Homo sapiens: one gene and its partner. The protein of the gene in region 1 interacts with the protein of each later gene in a biochemical or structural test. Each region holds a gene or a part of one and is shown on either strand. Other genes may lie near its edges. The genes, in order: UPF3A and UPF2.

Region 1 (15,922 bases):
AGTTTGTTGTGCCCAGAAAAGGAAAAAGAGGCTAAATTAATGGACTATTGTATTTTTCACTGACCATTTTCACTGTTATCTCTTATTTCAGTCTTTATCCTCATCTCTACTCAAGAGCATACATTAATTTTAGGAATCCTGATGACATCCTTCTTTTTAGAGATCGTTTTGATGGATATATCTTCCTTGACAGCAAAGGTTGGATTATTGGTTTTTAAAAATCTATTATAATCTGTAGGTATACTAATGAAGTATTGCTAGAATATTCGTGCTTTTTAAATTATTATTATTTTTTGAGACAGGGTCTTGCTCTGTTGCCCAGGCTGGAGTGCAGCAGCCGCAATCACGGCTCACTGCAGCCTCACACTGCGGCTCAAGCAATCCTCCAGCCTCCTAGGTAGCAGGGACCACAGGCGTGTGCCACCATGATCGGCTGATTTAAAAAAAAAATTGTGTAGAGACGGGGGTCTCACTGTGTTGCCCAGGCTGGTCTTGAACTCCTGGCTTCAAGTGATCCTCCCACCTCAGCCTCCCAAAGTGCTGGGATTACAGGCGTGAGCCACAGCATCCGGTCTATTTGTGCATTTTAATTAAAAAGTTCTCAGACTAAAATAAGTTTATAAATTTTGATTATGTTACTGTAATTATGTGCAGATATTAAAAATTGAAATTATTTAATTTTATTATTTAATCCAAAAAAATTCCAGAAATTCTGTGTAATAGTGACAGCCTATTTATGTATTATCATCAGAGAATGAAGGTTTTCATGAGTGAGTTTGTTGCATGAGAGAACTTGATCTTTTTAGGTTCTAAAGCTAAACTATTTTACCTGATAGGAATTTTCCAAAATGTACACTGACTTCTATCTTCCTAAACAGCATCCTTCATGACTGTACCATTTATGATAATGTCACCAGGAAGTCACTGCTGTTAAACAGCTTTGCCTGCGGAGACAGCAGTCTTCAACTCTACTCTCAATAGTTCCCTTATCAGTACTTCTAGGGTTCTGCTTTCATCTTTTTCCTTCTCTTCTCCTGTCAGGCTGTCTGCTGTTGTGTTCCTGGCTGTCAAGTTTGTATACCTTTCACAGCAAGTTGTTTTCTGCCCTCCCCTCCCCAGCCACCCTCTTCCGACTCCACGTGTTTTGACACTGATGAGTGTTTTCTTTTTCTCCAATGAGGGGTAAGGACTAGAAAGATTGTTAAAAAAATAAGCATTAGCCAAGCTAGTTCCTGTGACTAGAAGCAAATGTGATGCTTGAACTGACCTTTGTGTTCATTGCTCATTTATTCAGTAACTTACTGAGTTTCCCTTTTTCACTTAAAAAATATTGGTGGGCCGGGCACAGTGGCTCACACCTGTAATCCCAGCACTTTAGGAGGCCAAGGCGGGTGGATCACGAGGTCAGGAGTTCGAGACCGGCCTGAGCAACAACGTGAAACCCTGTCTCTACTAAAAATACAAAAATTAGCCAGGCATGGTGGCAGGCGCCTGTAGTCCCAGCTACTCGGAAGACTGAGACAGGAGAATTGCTTGAACCTGGGAGGCGGAGGTTGCAGTGAGCCGAGATCATGCCACTGCATCCCAGCCGGGGCGACGGAGCAAAAAAATATGTATGTGTATGTACGTGTATGTATATGTGTGTGTGTGTGTAAAATATGTGTAACATGGCCAGGTGTGATGGCTCACTCCTGTAATCCCAGCACTTTGGGAGGCCGAGGAATGTAGATCAGTTGAGGTCAGGGGTTCGAGACCAGCCTGGCCAAGATGGTGAAACCCTGTCTCTACTAAAAAAAAAAAAAAATTAGCCAGGCATCATGAGGCATGCCTGTAATCTCAGATACTTGGGAGACTGAGGCATGAGACTCACTTGAACCCGGGAGGCAGAGGTTGCAGTGAGCCAAGATCGTGTTACTACACTGTAGCCTTGGTGACAGAGTGAGACTCTGTCTCAAAAAAAAAAAAAGTCACAAAATTTATACCATACTGTTTTCCACAGTGACTGCGCCATTTTAGGTTCCCACCTGTAGTGAGCAAGGGGCCAGTCGTCCTTGTTTCCGGTTATCTTTGTTGTCGTTGTTTTGTTTTTTAGAGATGGGGTCTCACTATGTTGCCCAGGCTGGTGTCAAACTCCTGAGCTCAAGCGATTCCCCCCACATTGGCCTCCCAAAGTGCTGGGCTACAGGCGTGAGCCGCTGCCCTGCCGTTGTTTTTATGGTCTCTGGCCTAAGCCTGTGCTTTTGATGTCATATGCAACCCATTGCCAAATCCATTGCCATGGAGCTTTTCCCCTGTGTTTTTTTCCAAGTGTTTTATGGTTTCAGGTCTTATATTTAGGTTTGATCCATATCGAGTTACTTTTTGTATATGGTGTTAGGTAAGGGTCCAGCTTCATTCTTCTGGCTGTGGATATCCAGTTTTCCCAGCACCAGTTGTTGAAAAGACTTTCTTTTCCCCATTGAATGGTCTGGGCACCCTTTTCAAAAATCAGTTGACCAAGTATTACAAAGGTTTATTTCTGTGCTCTCTATTTTATTCCCTTGGTGGATGTGTCTGTCTACATGGCAGTACCACACTGATTACTTTCAGCTTTGGAATCAGGGAGTATGTCATCTGCCATTGAATGAGTATCCACTGTGTGCTAGGCCTTGTGGGTGGAGCGGTGACTTGGACATCGTCCCTGCTGGTCCAGTGCCCTGCCGTCCCCCTGAGTCTTGACTTTATTCTGGATAGTGGAGGTTGGCACAAAAATATCTCCCAGTTAAAGGAATTATAATTCAGTCACCTGACTATTACTGACAAGTCAAAAAAAAATGACTCAGTGGGTTTAGTACCAAGGTAGCAGTGTTCCATTTGATGATTCAGCATATAGCAGGTTCTCTTAGTGAACATTTCTCTTTGTGTATTTGTTTTTCCCCCACATAGCAACGAAGTTAGTTTCTAATGACTTCCATTCTCTACTTTTATCAGAAGCAGATTTCACCTGGAATATTCTATAAACCCTTTGAAACCCTCTATTTTAGCCATGGTGTCTTCTAAGCAAAGTAATTTTCTTGAACTTAAATAACAAATTGATAGTTGAATTAACCTTTTAAAATAAAATGTAAAGTGTAGCTAAGAAATCATTATTTAAAGGTATTCCAACGATAAATTATTTGGGATGGGGCTGGGGAGGTCAGGTATATTGAGGTGTAAGTTACATATGGTAAAAGTCACCCTTTTAAAGTGAACAATTTGATGAATTTTGAACAACTTCAGTTATGCAACCACCACAACATGATGGATTGTTTTAGTAAATGTTCTTCTTACCAGGAGTTCATCCTTGTTTAAGTCTGGAGTTTGCCGTGTTAAGGTTGCAGGTGCTTGAAAGTGTAATAAAATTGTAGGTTTTTTAATCTTTTTTTTAATCTCTTACTGGAAGGATGAATTATAGTTTAAATAGTAATAATGCATTGTCGTTGTTACACTTACTCTTTAAGTAAGTTAGGTCATTATTTTCCGAAATGAATGTAGTAGAATTTCAGAATGGCTTCTGGAACATGTTTCCTGTTAAAAGGCCTAGAATATCCTGCAGTGGTAGAGTTTGCTCCATTCCAGAAGATAGCCAAAAAGAAGCTGAGAAAAAAAGATGCCAAGACTGGAAGCATCGAAGATGGTGAGCCCTTTCCAAGTGCTACGTTATGAAGCTGCCAAATTAAGAACACTGAGCAAATGTAATTCTCCCGTAGTTGGGAAAGATTATATTTATTTTCTTCCTACTTTTTAATGTCTAGATCCAGAATATAAGAAGTTTTTAGAAACCTACTGTGTGGAGGAAGAGAAGACCAGTGCCAACCCTGAGACTCTGCTGGGGGAGATGGAGGCGAAGACAAGAGAGCTCATTGGTCTGTTTTGCTCATTTCTTCTCTTTTCTTTATTGAGAGATTTACTCGTAGAGGATATACGTTTTTTCTCTTTTTCTTGACTGTGATAACAAGTTGAAACTTGTTACAGGCTTGACAGAAATGTAGAGTGATTTCCAGTTTTGACAAAAGAATGGCAAGATGGCAGCATGGGAAAATATTTCTGAGCGTTGGTTGATGGAGAGCACGTGATTTTTTTAGTTAAGATCATTTTAAGTTATGATGCTTCCGAATGAGCAGTGCAGAAGACACATGAATGGTCTGTTCCTGAGCGTCAGGGAAGGCATGTTGTGTCACATAGTTGAAGTCAGTGGTCACAGACGGATGCCTCAAGAGCCCATAGGAATGAGATGTTTTGCTTGCGGTGAGGTCATCTTGCTGCTTCAACACAAATGCCAGGCTCCCCGAGCCAGGCCAACTTGTGGATAAGCCCAGCCAGAGCACAGAATCGAGTTTAAATCCAGCCTTCCACCCCATGCCCACAAGTGGTGTACTTTAGAAATAGTTACTTCCCAGTAGCACCAACATACTTCCCAGTAGCACCAACATGAAAATCAGGCAAACTGTTGTTGTTTAGTCCCAGACACACCTGGTAGTGTTTCTCTTCTCTGTGGATCTCCTTTCCTCAAAGCCCTGGTTCTTCACCTCTCATCTCTCCCGCCCAGGCTGTGCCCTGCCCACCCATCAAGATGGATGTACTTTGGGAGGCCAGGGTGGGCGGATCACAAGGTCAGGACTTCGAGATCAGCCTGGCCGACATGGTGAAACCCCATCTCTACTAAAGATACAAAAAATTAGCAGGGCATGGTGGTGCGTGCCTATAGTTCCAGCTACTGAGGAGGCTGAGGCAGGAGAATCGCTTGAACCCAGAAGGCGGAGGTTGCAGTGAGCTGAGATCGCACCACTGCACTCCAGCCTGGTGACAGAGCGAGACTCCATCTCAAAAAACCAATAAAATTGATGTGACATGACAGCCACATTGTTTATCATTTATTTTCCTGTCTGTCTCCCACCACATAAACTCCCTTCTTGTTTTGTCTCCCCAGTGGAACTATATTTTCATCTTCATGGTTGTAGAAAAGTTCAGGAATTTAGTAGATGTTGATTGAATTAATAAAAAAAGATTAATATTACTGAAATAGTCCGTTCACTTTCTTCATTTATCTAGTAATAAAGCTTTTTTTCCCCCCACTCTGTTGCCCAGGCTGGAGTGCGGTGGCACAATCTCGGCTCACTGCAACCTCTGCCTTCCCAGTTCAGGCCATTCTTCTGCCTCAGCCTCCTGAGTAGCTGGGATTACAGGCACCCGCCATCATGCCCAGCTAATTTTTATATTTTTGTGGAGATGGGTTTCACCATGTTGGCCAGGCTGGTCTTGAACTCCTGATCTCAGATGATCCGCCTGCCTCAGCCTCCCAAAGTACTGGGATTACAGGCGTGAGCCACCACACCTAGCCGTAATAAGGCTTTTGATCACTAAAGTAAACAAAATATGCTGAGGCTGCATGCTGCCTGGGCACTGACTCTGGGCCTCAGCATGGGGCCAAGTGGTAAGCAGGTTGCACAAGGCCTCTGCCTACCATCGGGATGACAGGTTGGAAGCAGGAGCAGGAATAGTCCAACCAGGGCACCTCAGTGTGTAATCACTGCCACTGATGTGACAAAGTGGAATATGGGAGGGAAAGAGGTTGGGAGACTCCCTCCAAGATAGTGGTGGAGCTGGAGCTGAGACTGGCTGCGGGAGGGAAAGAGGTCAGGAGATGAGCTGAGCCTGGCCGTGCTGAGCAGTGGAGGAAGGAAGCGCCAGGGGCAGGGCCGGCTGCTGTCGCTTTTCACTGCAGGCGCAGAGTGCAGGCTTGTGGGGTTGGCACACATGGGTGAGGGCAGCGTGGTTGGAGGTTCAGGGCACTGCAAGACATTTAGATTCATTCCAGGGCAACTGGAAGCCACTGGGGGAGTAGCATGGTCTGATTATTTGTCCCCGTCACTTTGGTGGTGTCACATGGGATAGACTGTGGATGCCAAGAGATGAGCGTGTGTTTTGGAGGTGGGCTGGACAGGACCGACAGACGGATAGGGTGTGGGAGGTAAGGGGACAGGAAGAATTAAGACTCCAGTGCTTGGCTTGAACAGATGGGTGGATTGTGGCACCATTATACACAAGGGAACATGAGGGTAGGACAGTATTGGGGGCAAAGTCGAGATTTCACTTAAGAACTTGATAAATTGAAGAAGAGCTAGAAGCAGCAAATTAGACGTTATTACAGGCCTCATCTCCCTGCCCCTCCCATTTCCATCTCACTTTGTTTTAAATGTCCCCTTGCAAAGGATCGGTCACTTTAGGGCTGTTTTGAGACATACCTTTTTGGGGCAGACACGTGGCTCCTGCCGGGGTGGGGAGAGGGGGGCATGTCCTGGCACCTCCCCGAGAGTCTGCTGCACAGCCAATGCTTCACAAAAGTTGGCTGAATGAATGAATGAATGTGGCTTAGAACCCACCATCCCTGATGGGAGCGATTAATTCATTCCAGGACTTGGCTGTAGAGTCTTCCTTGTTTCTGTGATTGCTGTTTCTATGTATGAAAAATTGAAACTTGGCCGGGTGCGGTGGCTCACACCTGTAATCCCAGCATTTTAGGAGGCTGAGGCGGGCAGATCATGAGGTCAAGAGATTGAGACCTTTCTGGCCAACATGGTGAAACCCCGTTTTTACTAAAAATACAAAAATTAGCTGGGCGTGGTAGCATGCGCCTGTAGTCCCAGCTACTTGGGAGGCTGAGGCAGGAGAATCGCTTGAACTCGGCAGGCGGAGGTTACAGTGAGCCAAGACCACGCCACTGCACTCCAGCCTGGCGACAAAGTAAGACTCCATCTCAAAAAAAAAAAAAAAAAAAATTTTAGGCAATTCATGGCAGATTACCTTTTTCTTTTCTAAGCTTTTGGCCTCCAGTGGATTCTTCTGCACAGGTCTGAGAAGCAAGTGTTAAATGGAAATACTAATAAGCTGTTTCTGGCAAGGACTCTGGAGTTGTTGAGTTAGTCTGGTGCATCGGCCTTTAGCATCGGCCTTTAGAGCAGACAGGCCTGGGTTCAGCTCTGAGACTTCTGTTTACTTGTGTTCTGTTGCATGGTTGTGCGTATTCTGTCTGATAAATAACATACTTTTATGATGTGTAGAACACTTTCTTATTCAGGGTCTAACGTACTTTGCCCGTGATCCCTGTGGGTGATAGGGCAGACATTTTATAGGAAGAGGAAGGTGGGCAAGCGGAGTCTGGGGTCAGCCTCCCCACACATCCAGGTGGTCTCGCCCGGCTCCTGGCTGACAAGTTCAGGCTTTCCACAGAGCAGAGCAGAACCCTGGCTGATTTGAGATAATTTGCCCATTACAAAGAGCTGACCATTTACCTGAGCCAGTGTGCTGTACTCACCCTGAGCCAGAGTTCATGGTCAGCCCAGGGACCCCTGGGGGAGTGTTCTCTGTGGCAACTGTGTCTGCCACGAAATGTGGCATTTGTACCTGCATCAGCTCTTCCCTACAACCACTGTGCCTGGGGCAGGGCTCCTGGGACAATCGGCTCTTCCCTACAACCACAGACTGTCCCTGGGGAAGGGCTTCTGGGACAGGTGCCATTTCATCTATGATGTCAGGGTGTCAGGGGTTCTCAGTTCCAAGTGATGGATCCCTGGCCAGGGCTTCTCCTATGATTCCTGATTCATTCCTGGTCCTCAGAATTCCAGAGATGATGTGTCAGTTTTCAGGTACATCCAGGGATTCTTCCCAGCCCTGTTTAGTCTGAGATCTTACAGACCCACAGAGTAGACCCCGTCTTCCCCCTTCCCATTTGTGTCCTTGTGTTGGTGGGATGTGGGGCCTGTCCATGTCAGCGCAAGTCCCTCTGAGGTGGGGCCTGTGGGGCCTCTAGCTTGCCTGGGCACCCACATCCAGGTCAGATCTGAGAGGTCGGGCATGAAAGCGAAGGACCAAGATAGAGTCTGTAGAAATGTTCATTCCCTAGTAGTTGGTGCCTTTTCTGCAATCAGCAGCGCCATATGGAGTCATTTTCTTTTTCTTTTCTTTTTTTTCTTTTTTTTTTTTTTTTGAGGCAGAGTTTCGCTGTTGTTGCCCAGGCTGGAGTGCAGTGGCGCAATCTCGGCTCACTGCAACCTCCTCCTCCCGTGTTCAAGTAGTTTTCCTGCCTCAGCCTCCCGAGTAGCTGGGATTATAGGCGCGTGCCATCACGCCCGGCTAATTTTGTATTTTTTCAGTAGAGACGGGGTTTCCTTAGGTTGGTCAGGCTGGTCTCGAATTCCCAATCTAAGGTGATCTGCCCGCCTTGGCCTCCCAAAGTGCTGAGATTACATGTGTGAGCCACCACGCCCGGCCCATGTGGAGTCATTTTCTAAACTACAATCCAGAGTTGTATGTCTTATCATTGGGATTTTATGGAGTATATATTGTAAGACATTACAAGAATCCATGTTATTTTAAAACTGTTGCTTGGAGAACGGAAAACGAAAAAGTTCTCAGAATATGCGATGTATCAAAATAAATATATGTTATTTAATGATTTAAGGCACCTACAAAAATATCATCTTGGAATATTTTAAGCCTCCCTTAAGAATCAGGAATTAGATGTCTACTATGTATGAAATTGTTGATACTTTCAAATTACTTGACCTGACAGTAATGGAATAAAAACTCCCCTGGAGACAGTGTGTAAATTTAAAAAGTAATGATATGGTTCCCGTATTTATTTTAAAGATTACATTCAAAACAAGTATTTAAAATACATCTTTCTTTAGGAGTTAAATACAATATTACAATTTTTGTGTTTTAGCTAGAAGAACCACACCTCTTTTGGAATATATTAAAAATAGAAAATTAGAAAAGCAGGTAGGTCTGGCCTTTACCTGATGAACACCCTCCCTGCTTCTGCCATTCTCATCCAGGCAGTTTATACACACGCTCTTCCATGTCTTTAGAGAATTCGAGAAGAGAAGCGAGAAGAACGGAGGAGGAGAGAGTTAGAAAAGAAACGTTTGCGGGAAGAGGAAAAAAGAAGAAGAAGAGAAGAAGAAAGATGCAAAAAAAAAGAGACAGATAAACAGAAGAAAATTGCAGAGAAAGAAGTAAGGATTAAGGTAATTCTGAGGAAACATTTCCTTTTTCCAAAAATAGCTCTGCTATAGTAATTACACTTTTTACATATCTTAGTTCTTTAGAATTTTGAAAACATTCTGAATTAATCTAATATTGTGTTGTTATTTTTTTCCATCTTTTCCATCTTTCTTTCCATCCTACAGCAGTGGTTATCACAGTGCGTCCTGAGCCCTGGGAGTCCTCAGGCTGCTGTTGGGTGCCTGTCCTCCTGGGTGTGCAGTGGGGAGCACACCCCACAGGAGCCCCACGCTGGCACACGTTGGGCTGCTGCTGACGCTCTTTTTTTTTTTTTTTTTTTTAAACTTTCCAACTTTCATTTTCGGCTCAAGGCGTACATGTGCAGGTGTGTTACATGTTCATTGTCAGCTCAACGCGTACACGTGCAGGTGTGTTACGTGTTCATTTTCGACTCAAGGCGTACACGTGCAGATGTGTCACATGTTCATTTTCAGCTCAAGGCGTACACGTGCAGGTGTGTTACGTGTTCATTTTCGACTCAAGGCGTACACGTGCAGATGTGTCACATGTTCATTTTCGGCTCAAGGCGTACACGTGCAGGTGTGTTACGTGTTCATTTTCGGCTCAAGGCTTACACGTGCAGGTGTGCCACATGTTCATTTTCGGTTCAAGGCGTACACGTGCAGGTGTGTTACGTGTTCATTTTCGGCTCAAGGCGTACACGTGCAGGTGTGCCACATGTTTATTTTCGGTTCAAGGCGTACACGTGCAGGTGTGTTACGTGTTCATTTTCGGCTCAAGGCGTACACGTGCAGGTGTGTTACGTGTTCATTTTCGGTTCAAGGCGTACACGTGCAGGTGTGTTACGTGTTCATTTTCGGCTCAAGGCGTACACGTGCAGGTGTGTCACATGGGTAAATCAAGTGTCACTGGGGTTTGGTGTGCAGATAATTTTGTTGCCCAGGTAATCAGCACAGTACCTGATGTTTTTCAGTCTTCACCCTCCTCCCATTCTCCACCCTCTACATTTTCCTTTAAAAAAAAGTTTTCCTCCCAGCACTTTGGGAGGCTGAGGCGGGCAGATCACGAGGTCAGGAGTTCGAGATCACCCTGACTAACATGGTGAAACCCTGTCTCTACTAAAAATACAAAAATTAGCCAGGTGTGGTGGCGGACGCCTTAATCCCAGCTACTCAGGAGGCTGAGGCAGGAGAATCGCTTGAACCCAGGGAGCAGAGGTTGCAGTGAGCCGAGATCGCGCCATTGCACTCCAGCCTGGGCGACAGAGCAAGACTCCCTCTCAAAAAAAAAAAAAAAAAAAAAAAATTTCCTGGCCGGGTGGGGTGGCTGACACCTATAATCTCAGCACTTTGGGAGACCGAGGCAGGCGGATTACTTGAGTTCAGGAGTTTGAGACCAGCTTGGCCAATATGGGGAAACCCCATCTCTACTAAAAACACAAAAATGAGCCGGACGTGGTGGCGTGTGCCTGGAATCCCAGCTACTCAGGAGGCTGAGGCAGGAGAATCACTTGAACCCAGGAGGCGGAGGTTGCAGCGAGCCGGGATCGCGCCACTGCACTCCAGCCTGGGCAACAGAGCAAGACTCTGTCTTAAAAAAAAAAAAGTTTCCCTGATTAAAAAATACACATTTGAAAACCACTGGTTTTGCCTTTCTGTGTGAAGGCTGACTCAGAACCGGGTTTTATCATTTCTTTGGCAGTAGCACTAATGAGTTTCTGTATTTCTTGCTGAGTTTTTTCTGTGACTGATACATTCATTTATGAGGGTGGTTTAATACATAGAGGGAATTTTTCTCTGTGTGAAATGTGTTGGCCAGAATTGGGACCAGCCATTATCTCCTCAGTACTAAACCTAGATTTGAACCTAAGGTATCACTCATTACTTATTATTTATTGAATACCTTATATTCAATAATATTGTACAATATGAGGAAAAAAATGAAATGTCAGGACTTGGGGAAAGAAGATAGCTTAGGAAAGGGTGGGGAAGAGATCATTGAACCATAGATTTGTTTCTGATATGGTCAGCAGTCAAAAACAGAAAAGTTGGCTGGGTATGATGGCTCATTCCTATAATCTCAGGACTTTGGGAGACCAGGGCAGGTGGATTGCTCTAGCCCAGGAGGTCAAGACCAGCCTGGGCAACAGAGAGAGACCCTGTTTCTGTTTTTTGTAGAGATGGGGTTCCCACTATATTGCCCAGGCTGGTCTCGTACTCTTGGACTCAAGTGATCTTCCTGCCTCACCCTCCCAAAGTTTGGGGATTACAGGCGTGAGCCACCATGCCTGGCCTGGTTTAGCTTTTAATAAGTATCTGTGCTCAGTATGGGGGTCTTTCACTTCTAAATCATGTGGAAAATTGAAATTCTTTTAATGCCTGAAAAATGGAATCTGTGGAGAAATGCAAAAGAAGGTGTATCAACAGCTTAAAGAAAGACAGATGGCTCATGGCTATTTTGCTATTTTTTTGTTTGGTTTTGGTGGGGGGGGGGTTTGAGACAGGGTCTCAATGTGTCACCCAGGCTGGAGTGTAGTGGCACAGTCACAGCTCACTGCAGCCTCTACCTCCCAGGCTCAAGTGATCCTCCCGCCTCAGCCTCCCATTACAGGGGTGCAACATCATACCTGAATAGCTAATTTAAAAAAAAATTTGTAGAAGTGGGGGTCTCACTATGTTGTCCAGGCTGGTCTTGAACTCCTGGGCTGAAGTGATCCTCCCACTGCTGGGGTTAGAGGCATGAGCCACCGTGCGTAGCACTCATGGCTATTCTTAATAAAGAGAAATATGGTTTGGGAGGCCGAGGCGGGCGTATCACGAGGTCAGGAGATCGAGACCATCCTGGCTAACACAGTGAAACCCCATGTCTACTAAAAATACAAAAAAATAGCTGGGCGTGGTGGCACACGCCTGTAGTCCCAGCTACTCAGGAGGCTGAGGCAGGAGAATCGCTTGAACCTGGGAGGCAGAGGTTGCAGTGAGCTGAGATCACGCCACTGCACTCCAGCCTGGGCGACAGAGCGAGACTCCGTCTCAAAAAGGCTGGACCGCGGTGGCTCACACCTGTAATCCTGGCACTTTGGGAGGCCGAGGTGGGCGGATCATTAGGTCAGGAGATCGAGACCATCCTGGCTAACACGGTGAAACCCTATCTCTACTAAAAATACAAAAAATTAGCTGGGCGTGGTGGCGGGAGCCTGTAGTCCCAGCTACTTGGAAGGCTGAGGCAGGAGAATGGCATGAACCCGGGAGGCGGAGCTTGCAGTGAGCCAAGATTGCGCCACTGCACTCCAGCCTGGGCGACAGAGCAAGACTCCGTCTCAAAAAAAAAAAAAAAAAGAAAAGAAATACGGCACACAGAACAGCTCAGCTGTTTAATGTTCCTCTGAGGATGCTAAGCAGTGAGCTTATGTGTGGCCACATGGGTGAACACACACAGGCGAGGGCTGGGAGGGAGCACAGCTGCCCATGCGCTCCGCTTGGCCTCCGGAAGCCTTGCAGGGCGTGGCAGAGCTGGCCTGCTCCCCAGCTCGTCTCCAGCAGCTCTGGCCTGCTCCCCAGCTCGTCTCCAGCGGCTCTGGCGTGCTCCCCAGCTCGTCTCCAGCGGCTCTGGCGTGCTCCCCAGCTCGTCTCCAGCGGCTCTGGCCTGCTGGTTTCTCATGAATGCACCAGCGGATTCCACCTCAGGACTCCGCACGTTTCCCTCCACAGGGACTTCCCCAGATGTGCCCGTGGCTCCTTCTTGGCATCTGGTCTTAGTTCCCGTCTTGGCTCTGCAGAGAGCCCTCCTGGGCCCTCCTCTTCCTGCGTCTCTGATGCTTTACTCTCCCTTCATGTCTGTTCGTAGCTTTTGATGCTACCTGAGGTTATCTTATTCCTTTGTTTCCTTTTTCATATTTTTGCCACTGTTCACAGCATTCCCCCTTGACCACCGTTGCCTCAGGTGGTGCATCAGGCGCAAGTTCCTTCGAGGCAGGGGCACCTCTTGTCTCATTCACAGCCATTCCCTAGTGCCTAGCACAGGGTCTTAGGCCCTGGTTCCTGCACACAGCTCCTCAGACCTCGGGAATCTGCAGTAATATGAGTGTCTTATATGCCAATGAGAGGACTAGGGGCTGGGGGCCCCAGGCAGCTTCAGGATGGGGACTAGTTGGCCAGAAAGCCAAGGCAGGACTAGAGGGTTGGGACTTTCAGTCCCACCCTAGCCTCCGAGAGGGCAGAGGGCCTAGAGAGAGGTCACCGGTGGCCAGTGACTTAATCAGTCACACCTACATAATGAAACCTTAATAATGCCTAAAGACAGGGCTTCCAGGGGCCAGGCACAGTGGCTCACGCCTGTAATCCCAGCTCTTTGGGGGGCCAAGGCAGGTGGATCCCGAGGTCAGGAGTTTGAGACCAGCCTGGCTAATATGGTGAAACCCCGTCTCTACTAAAAATACAAAAATTAGCCAGGCATGGTGGCGCATGCCTGTAGTCCCAGTTACTCAGGAGGCTGAGGCAGAAGAATCGCTTGAACCCAGGAGGCGAAGGTACAGTGAGCCGAGATCGCGTCACTGCAGTCTAGCTTGGGTGACAGAGCAAGACTCCATCTCAAAAAAAATAAAAAAAATAGACGGGCCTTCCGGGTTGGTGAGCACATCAAGGTGCTGGGAGGGTTACTGCATGGAAGCTCCAAGTACCACTACACCATACCCCATACCCACCTTGTGCATTTTTTCCGTTTGGCTGTTCTGGGTTGTATCCTTTATGATTAGCCAATAATCGAGAAAACAGTGCCTTTCTGAGTTCTGTGAGCCATTTCAGCAACTTACCAAATCTGAGGAGAGGCCATCGGGAACCCCTGAATTTATTGCTGACTGGTCAGAAGTACCGGTGACACACTGGGACTTGGAACTGTCGTCTGAAAGGGGGGCAGTCTTGTGGGACTGAGCCCTTGACCCGTGGGTTCTGGTGCTAACTCCAGGTCGATGATCTCAGAGTTGAGTTGAATGTGGAGCACGCAGCTGGTGTCGGAGGGGTGGTATTGAAAAAGACGTGCAGTGTCAGAAATGTAAGAACAGTTCCTAGGCACACAGAATATTTGTTGAATGGGTGGATGGAGATTTGCACTTCCTATGGTTCACATTTATTACAGACATGTTACTGTTGCAATTTTTATAAAAGATGGGCAGTTACCAGAAAGGAAATGTTTAAGTTCCCAGATTCCACATAGGCAGAATAAGAGGATGTTCACAGCTGACATGGGGCCCACGCTTGATGAGAAGCGGCTTCCAATGCTCCACCTTGCATGATGCGTTGTGTTCCCAAGTGAACACGTGTGATTGAATGCATCTGTGTATGGTCTTGCTATGCTGCAATTATGAGTGAGAACAGAATTCTCAGATGTACACCTTCCATTTCTGTTCTACAAATGATCTGTCTGTGGTGCTTCCGTTTTTTTTTTTTTTCTCCCTTTTCTCAAGTTAGCTGAGGTGCTTTAGTTTCAAAAACTATACAGAGAGCAGGGAGAAAGGCCAGGGGCATACAGGGCAGATGAAATATGTCGTGGCGACTTGTTCATTAATTCTGTTTCAGGAAAGAGAATAATCAGTGTTTTGAAAACTATAAACTATTCTAAAAATCATCAGTAGGAAGCAGCCTTTTAAAAATTTTTTTTTCCTTATTACAAAACTAATACTTGTCTATGTCAGGAAAACTAGACCCTATAGATGAAAGGAAATAAAGTCATTTCAGTTCTGCCATCTAGAAATAATCACTATTGGCCGGGCATGGTGGCTCATGCCTGTAATCCCAGCACTTTGGGAGGCCAACGCTGGGGGATCACAGGTCAGGAGTTCAAGACCAGCCTGGCCAACATGATGAAATCCCATCTCTACTAAAAATACAAAAATTAGCCAGGCACGGTGGCAGGAGCCTGTAATCCCAGCTACTTGAGAGGCTGAGGCAGGAGAATTGCTTGAACCAGGGTGGCAGAGGTTGCAGTTAGCTGAGATCAAGCCACTGCACCCCAGCCTGGGTGACAGAGTGAGACGTCGTCTCAAAAAAAACAACAAACAAAAACTACAAAAGTTAGCCAGGTGTGGTGGCACGCCCCTGTAGTCCTGGCTATTCAGGAGGCTGAGGCAGTAGAGTCGCTTGAACCCAGGAGACGGAGGTTGCAGTGAGCCGAGACTGCACCACTGCACTCCAACCTGGACGACAGAGCGAGACTCCATCTCAAAAAAGGAAATAATCACTATTAATACAGTGCTGCAGAGCCCTTTAGGTGGTGGTGTGTGTGTGAACATAAATAGAAGTGGGGGCTGGGCACGGTGGCTCACGCCCATAATCCCAGCACTTTGGGAGGCCAGGGTGGGTGGATTGCCTGAGGTCAGGGGTTTGAGATCAGCCTGGCCGACATACTGAAACCCCGTCTCTACTAAAAATACAAAAAATTAGCTGAGCGTGGTGGTGGGCGCCTGTAATCCCAGCTACTTGGGAGGCTGAGACAGGAGAATCACTTGAACCCGGGAGGAGGAGGTTGCAGTGAGCCAAGATCGTGCCATTGCACTCCAGCCTGGGCAACAAGAGTGAAACTCCATCTCAAAAAAAAAAAAAAAAATTAGACGGGTATGGTGGCGCATGCCTGTCGTCCCAGCTACTCAGGAGGTGGAGGCAGGAGAATCACTTGAACCTTGGAGGCGGAGGCTGCAGTGAGCCGGGAGTGCGCCACGGCACTTCAGCCTGGGCGACAGAGCGAGACTCTGTCTCAAAAGAGAAAAGTGTAAGTGAGATTGTGGTGCATGTTCTGTTTTTTAGCCCTTTATTCATTACGTGAACATCTTTGCATCACATTAACCTACCTTACTTTTCATGACTAAAAAATATTTCATTCACTG
Region 2 (7,000 bases), on another chromosome or scaffold:
TTGCTCTATACTTTTCTACTGTAGTCCTGGAGCCCCCAAATGTATCTTCTTCCAACGTGGGATGTTCAATTCAGAGACACTGAAACTCAAATCAAGTTTAAAGCTCAAGTTCATTTCCCCCACACCATTACCATCACAACCCGTTTCTTCTCTGGCTCAATCATCTCCTTCACGCTCTCCTTGGTGTAACTGCTCAGTAGTCAAGTGAACCATCTCATTTCTTGACTGCCATTCTCAAGAGAAGATTAACCCTCGCGAGATTTCCATTACAAAAGGCCTTTTCCGCCTTGTCTGGAAGCGTCGGCTTGTTCCGGTGTTGGCAGAGGCTGGTGTTTCTGCCTCCTGGCCCCAGCCTGTCCCAGGTTTAGATTCGCAACTCTCTAGACCGACCTGCTGAGATGTGTCCACTGCTCTCATTCAATTGCTGGAGGACTCCACTAACCACAACATCAGATACAGGACCTAATGAAATGACACGTGCTGCTGGATCAACGTCTCCTAAAGGAACAAACAGGGTCACATCAGAGAGCTTACTGCCACAGGACAAAGTCCAGCAAGATGGCGTCTGCAACGCTACCCACCACCACCAAGTCACTCCCCCAAGTTACAGGTGGCCCTGGCATCTGCGGGTTCCACATCCATGGACCAAAAATATTCGGGGGAAAAAAACCCAAACAATAAAAAATAACATAAATATTAAAAACAATACAGTATATCAACTATCTCCATAGCATCTACACTTTATTAGGTATTACAAGTAATGTAGAGATGATGTAAAGTACACGGGAGGATGTGCATATGTTATACATAAATGCTACACCATTTTTTACCAGGGACTTGAATGTCTGTGCATTTTGGTGTCTGAGGGGATCCAGGAAGCAACCCCCTGTGGATACCGAGGACAACTGTAGTGCTTTTTTGAGAGCATTCATGCTCTCTACTGAGCTACAACTTAACCAGAGCCATTGGAGCAATGGCTGGAGGAGTGGCTCTGTTCTCTTCTACAACTTATTCTTAAGGTGCTAAGAATTCACAGTTTGTGTTATGGTTCAGTTGTGTATCCCCAAAATTCACATGTTAACACTGAACTGCAGGACCTCAGAATGTGACCGTATTTGGAAACAAGGTTGCTGTAGACGTAATTACTTCAGATAAGGCCATACTGGAGCAGGGTGGAGCCCTAATCCCATATGACTGCATCTCTATAAAAAGGGAAATTTGCACACAGACACACACAGGGGGAAAAGGCCACGTGAAGACAAAGGCGGAGACCAGGGTGAGGTATGACAAGGTATGGAAGCCAAAGACTGCCGGCACCCCCAGCAGTAGAAGGCAGGCCTGGAGCAGTCTTCCTCCAGGCCTCAGAAGGAACCAGCCCCGCTGACTCCCTGACCTCAGGTTTCCTGCCGGCGGCCTCCAGTGCTGCGAGACAACAGACATCTGTCGTTTAAGCTACTAGGGCTGTAATATTTTGTCATGGCAGCCCAAGCAGATGAACAGTTTGTTTCTTACAGAGCAAGCTACCTTAGCAAGAAACTTTCAAAGCGTTAAGATGCAAATATGGAAAAGTATATCCTCAGCTGGATAAGATCCGTAACTCTTCCAGAAATGAACTGATGGAAAGAACACAAGTATTCCCTGAGGGAATGAAAGAGAAGATTCAAGCATCTCTCCTGAAGTCAAGAAAAGGCAGCTATCTAACCTAGAATACTTTAAATAAATGCAGTAAATGACAGGAAAAAAATGTTCAAAATCTTTGCTAAGTAAGGTATAGTTATATCACTAGTTATAGTGTAAGGTGTCATTTGACTGGTTTATAAGCAAACAATCATTCTGAGTGACTCAAAAATCTATCAGCTCAAAAACTGTTTATTAATACAATATACACTTTGGATTAAATGCAATTCTACAATGGACTCTATTGTATAACAAAACTATCACTAATTTAACCTTACATAAAGATATATAAAAAAAAAATCTGATGAAAAAATGCAGACTCTACTTAAGATAGGTTTACAAGAGTTCAATATCAGCCTGGGCAACATAGTGAGACCTCGACTCCACTAAAAATAAAAAAAATTAGCCATTTGTAGTGGTGTGTGCCTATAGTCCCAGATACTGAGAGGCTGAGGCAGGACTGCTTGAGCCCAGGAGGTCGAGGCTGCGGTGACCTGTGATCACGCCACTGTACTCCAGCCTGGGTGACAGAGCAAGAACCTGTCTCAAAAACAAAATAAAACAACAACAAAATCATTTTTAAAAAGATGGGTTTAAAAGTCAGATAGTATACTCCTATGCCGCTAAGTGTAGGCCACACACCAGCAGTTTTGACATCACTGGAGATCTTGTTTAAAAGTAACCAGAGCTTGTTGTGCTCACTTCAGCAGCACATATACTAAAAATTGTAGTGATACAGAGAAGACTAGCATGGCCCTGTGCAAGGATGACATGCAGGTGGGGTGCAGTGGCTCACGCCTGTACCCTCAGCACTTTGGGAGGCTAACGCAGGCAGATCACTTGAGGTCAGGAGTTTTGGAGACCAGCCTGGCCAACATGGTGAGACCTCATCTCTACTAAAAATACAAAAATTTGGCTGGGCGCGGTGGCTCATGCCTGTAATCCCAGCACTTTGGGAGGCCGAGGAGGGTGGATCATGAGGTCAGGAGTTCAAGACCAGCCTGGCCAAGATGGTGAAACCCCGTCTCTACTAGAAATACAAAAATTAGCCAGGTGTGGTGGCAGGTGCCTGTAATCCCAGCTACTCGGGAGGCTGAGGCAGAGAATTGCTTGAACCCGGGAGGCGGAGGTTGCAGTGAGCAGAGATCACGCCACTGCACTCCGATATAGCGAGACCCCATCTCAAAAAAAAAAAAAAAAAAATTAGCTGGGCGTGGTGGCACATGCCTGTAATCACAGCTACTTGGGAGGCTGAGGCACAAGAATTGCTTGAACTCGGGAGGCAGAGGTTGCAGTGAGCCGAGATCCCGGCACTGCACTCCAGCCTGGGCAACAGAACAAGACTCCATCTCAAAAAACAACAAAAAAGAATGACACACAAATTCGTGAAGCTTTCCACAATAATTAAAAAATAATAATAAAAGAAACTAATCAGAACTTGCTTTTTAGTAAGAGTCTAGAGAGTTAATACGTATTTTAAAGTTTGAGAAGCATTGAAATAACCCATATGAATTAGTACCATCTAAGCCATGTAAGTATTAACACTTGCCAAAAATGTTAAGTTTCACAGATTTTCAATACTAGTGTATTAGAAAAACAACCTTGTTCTGCAATACAGAAAACCCTACATAATAGTTTTACTTACAGCACTGCTGCCGTTTCAACTCATTGTAAGCAAATGCCTCTTATTTGTTAAAGGGCTGAAATTTTAATTTATGTCCTTATTTCAAGGATCTCCTGGTTAGAAAATATACAAATACAAATTAAAATCTGGGAGTCCATCAAAAGCTACAGGAGAAAAATAGTTTATGCCGGGCGTGGTGGCTGACACCTATAATCCCAGCACTTTGGGAGGTCCAGGCAGGCAGATCACCTGAGGTCAGGAGTTCAAGACCAGCCTGGCCAACATGGCGAAACCATGTCTCTATTAAAAATACAAAAATTAGTCAAGAGTGGTGGACTGCATACCTGTAATCCCAGCCACTCGGGAGGCTAACAGAAGAATCACTTGAACCCAGGAGGTGGAGGGTGCACTGAACTGAGATTGTGTCACTGCACTCCAGCCTGGGTAACAGAGCAACATGTCGTCTCAAAAAAAAAAATCTTTTTTTTAAACTACTTTTTTTTTTGAGACAGGGTCTGGCTCTGTCGCCCAACCTGGAGTGCAGTGGTGTGATCTGGCAGTCTCTGCCTCCTGGGCTCAAGCGATCCTTCCACCTCGACCTCCCAAAGTGCTGAGATTACAGGCGTGAGCCACTGCTCCTAGACCTAAACTACTTTATAATCAGTTTCCAAATAAATTTCCCTTTATCTGCTGTATAACATTACTAATATTAATAACTGATTTTTTTTAATAGAGTTTCGCTCTTGTTGCCCAGGCTGGAGTGCAATGGCGCAATCTTGGCTCACTGCAACCTCACCTCCCAGGTTCGAGTGATTCTCCTGCCTCAGACTCCCGAGTAGCTGGGATTATAGGTGCCCGCCACCATGACCGGCTAATTTTTCTAATTTTAGTAGAGACGGGGTTTCACCATGTTGGTCAGGCTGGTCTCGAACTCCTGACCTCAGGTGATCTGCCTTCCTCGGCCCCCCAAAGTGCTGGGATACAGGTATGAGCCATCACAACCAGCCTTAAAATGTAAATTTTAAAAAAGGCAAAGAACATCTGGTCCTCTAAAGGGTAAAATCTCATGTTTCCATGTTTGTTCATCTACCATGTTTATCGCACCTATACTTTAGGAGCATTGACTATAAAAATTCCATTCGTGATACTTTACAGAGTGCTATTCTTAAGACTGATGGACAAGTTAGGTTTTCTTTTTTTAAGGTGCTATTTTAAGAAAAGATCTTAAAACAGGTTGAGTGGCTAGCTCAAAAGCTAGGACTCTTACAAAAAAGAAAAACAGAGGGAAGAGCTAGGGAGCAGAACTGGAATGAGAACGTTTATTCAGTGACTGAACACAGACTGTGAAAAGTTCTTTTGTCCATTCACCAAATATTTACTGAGCACCTACTAGGTGCCAGGCACCAAGAGCTGTGAAGGAGACAGAATGGAAACAACATGAGACTTGGTCCCAGCCCTCATCGCCTGTAATCTCATGGGGAATAGAGACAAGCTAAGCGGCACTTAAGGAGGACAAGGTCTGCAGAAATACCATAAGTCATGGCAGCAGATCCGCACTGACCTATGTCAGACTCAGGAACACCAAGGCAGGACCCGAAGGAGCAGGAGTTCTCCAGGGGAACAGCTGGAGACTGTTCCACACAGAGGAGGCAAAAAGAACACAGAACTAAAGGTCAGCTAGGCTGCAGCAGGAGAAAGAACAGCAGGAGATGAAGCCAGTAATGTATGTCCACCTGCACCACAGGGCCTTGGGAACCAAGTTGAGGAGTTTAGACTTTTTATCCTACAAGCCACGAGGAGCCATTGGATGATTTTAAGCAGAAGGGCACACACAGATATCAAATTTGTGTTTTAGAAAGAACACTGGGTCTATAGCGGGAGAATGAATTGGAAAGGGTTGAAGGTTGAGACGGAGAGGCTGATGAGGAGGCTGAGGCAGCAACAGCAATCCAGGCAAGAGGTGATGGTGGCTTGACCCATGGTCTTGGCTATGGGCAGAGAATAGAAAAGGCAAGAGTGAGGGCCATTTGGGAGCAGAATGCAGAGGATTTGCTAATGAACTACATTTAGGGATTGAGGGAGGAGGAGCTGTCAATAACACAACTTCCTTTTCTTTTGTGGACAAGAGGGCAGACAACGCTTCCTCTCCCTGCACTGGAGACCCTGGGGAAGAGGAGTCTGGGGCAGGGGCACGAGTCTTCCATCTCTGAGTCACAGTGGGGTGGAAAGTCAGAAATGAAAATGTGAGATCTGGGCTGGAGACCTGGATGGAAGTCAGGCCACTGGGAGGGATGACACCTCCTTTGAGAGTGCAGAAGGAGAAGAGGGCCCAGGCTGAGCCCAAGGAACACAGACATCCCTAGGCAGGGAAGCGCAGAAAGGAGGCAGTGTCAGCAGCAGGAGCCACAGTGATCGCGGGAAGGGAAAACCCAGAAGCCAGCAGAATCACAGATGCCAAGGAAGGGTCTGTTGGGAGAACAAGGAGGGCCTACAATGCAAAGTGCTGCTGAGATGAGGCCAAGAGATGGCAGGTGGGGATGCCAGTGATGGCAGAAGCTGCCTAGACCTAGGGACTGAGAAGGTGACAGGAGTCAATAATGAACCTCTTTTCTAGCATAGCCACTGGGGTGGGCAATGCCTCCCACTGCCAGCTGTGACTTGGCAGGGGTAAGCCACCCAAGTGGGAGCAAGGAAGAAGGGGCAAGTGTAGCCGATTCTTCCAAGGAGGAATTGGAGGGAGGAAGGGAAAATAGAAAGTGAAGGAACTCTGCAAAGTGACTAACACCGGTAACCAGGTTAAGAAAGGCTTACCTCTGTTCACACGCACGTCGATGACAGCACACACATGCTCACGTCGATGACAGCACACACATGCTTACATATCTCCTGCCTGGTCCTTAACAGACTCTCACCCAAGGTTTTTGAAACAGACAAATGAAGAGGGTGGAATTATCTTTCAAGTACCCATACTCGGCTTCCCTACTGGACCACAACCGTGCAGGTAAAGACCCTGTCTTGTACTCCATCTTCCACAGTGCAGTCCTGGATGAGTGTACACGGAGGGAGGCAAATCCTACTGGATGCCCCTTATGTCATCCAACTCCATAGTGAGTCTACACAAATTACTAAGACACTATACTTGCGATACATGAATTGTGAGGGGGTTAGGGATTAATAAAAACGTGCTATTCAGAGACGTTAGGCTGCAATATGAACAGGTGAAGATGATGGAAAACATCAAGATATTATGCTGGTGCAAAAGTAATTGCAGTTTTTCCCATTACTTTTATTGGCAAAAACCGCATTACTTTTTACCAACCGAAATACAAATATTCTAACAGTTTTGGTCTCTGATGATGAGACAGGAGGGAATAGATGTTATCAAGAACACTGTGGCATATATTTAAAGCTACTCTAAGAAAATGCAAAAGCAGGAAATGAACATTTTTCATTGCCTGTTAACCTAGCTAGTGTCCACATTTTAGCAGCAATAAAACAGGCTTAATTAAAGGACTTTAATAAAGTTTGGATAATTAAAAATAACCTAATATCTTATTGTGCCTAATTAGATGGGTTTACAGGTCATTTCCAACTTGGATTTTTTTTTTAAATTATACTCAACAGATGCTAAAGAACAGATCTCTAAACTGTCTTGACAAGCCAGTTTTCTACATTACAATTTGATTAGAGTTATCTGAG

The links.
Region 2: the proteins of UPF3A (region 1) and UPF2 form a complex in vitro, tested with the Homo sapiens proteins (2 studies listed by IntAct, with this or other methods).

The regions. Positions count from the first base shown.
Region 1 is NC_000013.11:114,282,746-114,298,667, forward strand, and holds part of UPF3A (regulator of nonsense transcripts 3A), read left to right. Parts: intron 1-91; coding exon 92-198; intron 199-1,348; exon of another isoform or gene 1,349-1,613; intron 1,614-3,513; exon of another isoform or gene 3,514-3,525; coding exon of another isoform or gene 3,526-3,556; coding exon 3,557-3,655; intron 3,656-3,773; coding exon 3,774-3,884; intron 3,885-3,993; coding exon of another isoform or gene 3,994-4,010; exon of another isoform or gene 4,011-4,567; coding exon of another isoform or gene 4,568-4,791; exon of another isoform or gene 4,792-5,041; intron 5,042-8,743; coding exon 8,744-8,799; intron 8,800-8,855; coding exon of another isoform or gene 8,856-8,888; coding exon 8,889-9,047; intron 9,048-9,053; exon of another isoform or gene 9,054-9,839; intron 9,840-9,925; exon of another isoform or gene 9,926-10,976; intron 10,977-12,605; coding exon of another isoform or gene 12,606-12,707; exon of another isoform or gene 12,708-13,363; intron 13,364-15,922. UniProt on the Homo sapiens protein: Involved in nonsense-mediated decay (NMD) of mRNAs containing premature stop codons by associating with the nuclear exon junction complex (EJC) and serving as link between the EJC core and NMD machinery.
Region 2 is NC_000010.11:11,920,810-11,927,809, forward strand, and holds part of UPF2 (regulator of nonsense transcripts 2), read right to left. Parts: intron 499-7,000; coding exon 489-498; 3' UTR 1-488. UniProt on the Homo sapiens protein: Involved in nonsense-mediated decay (NMD) of mRNAs containing premature stop codons by associating with the nuclear exon junction complex (EJC).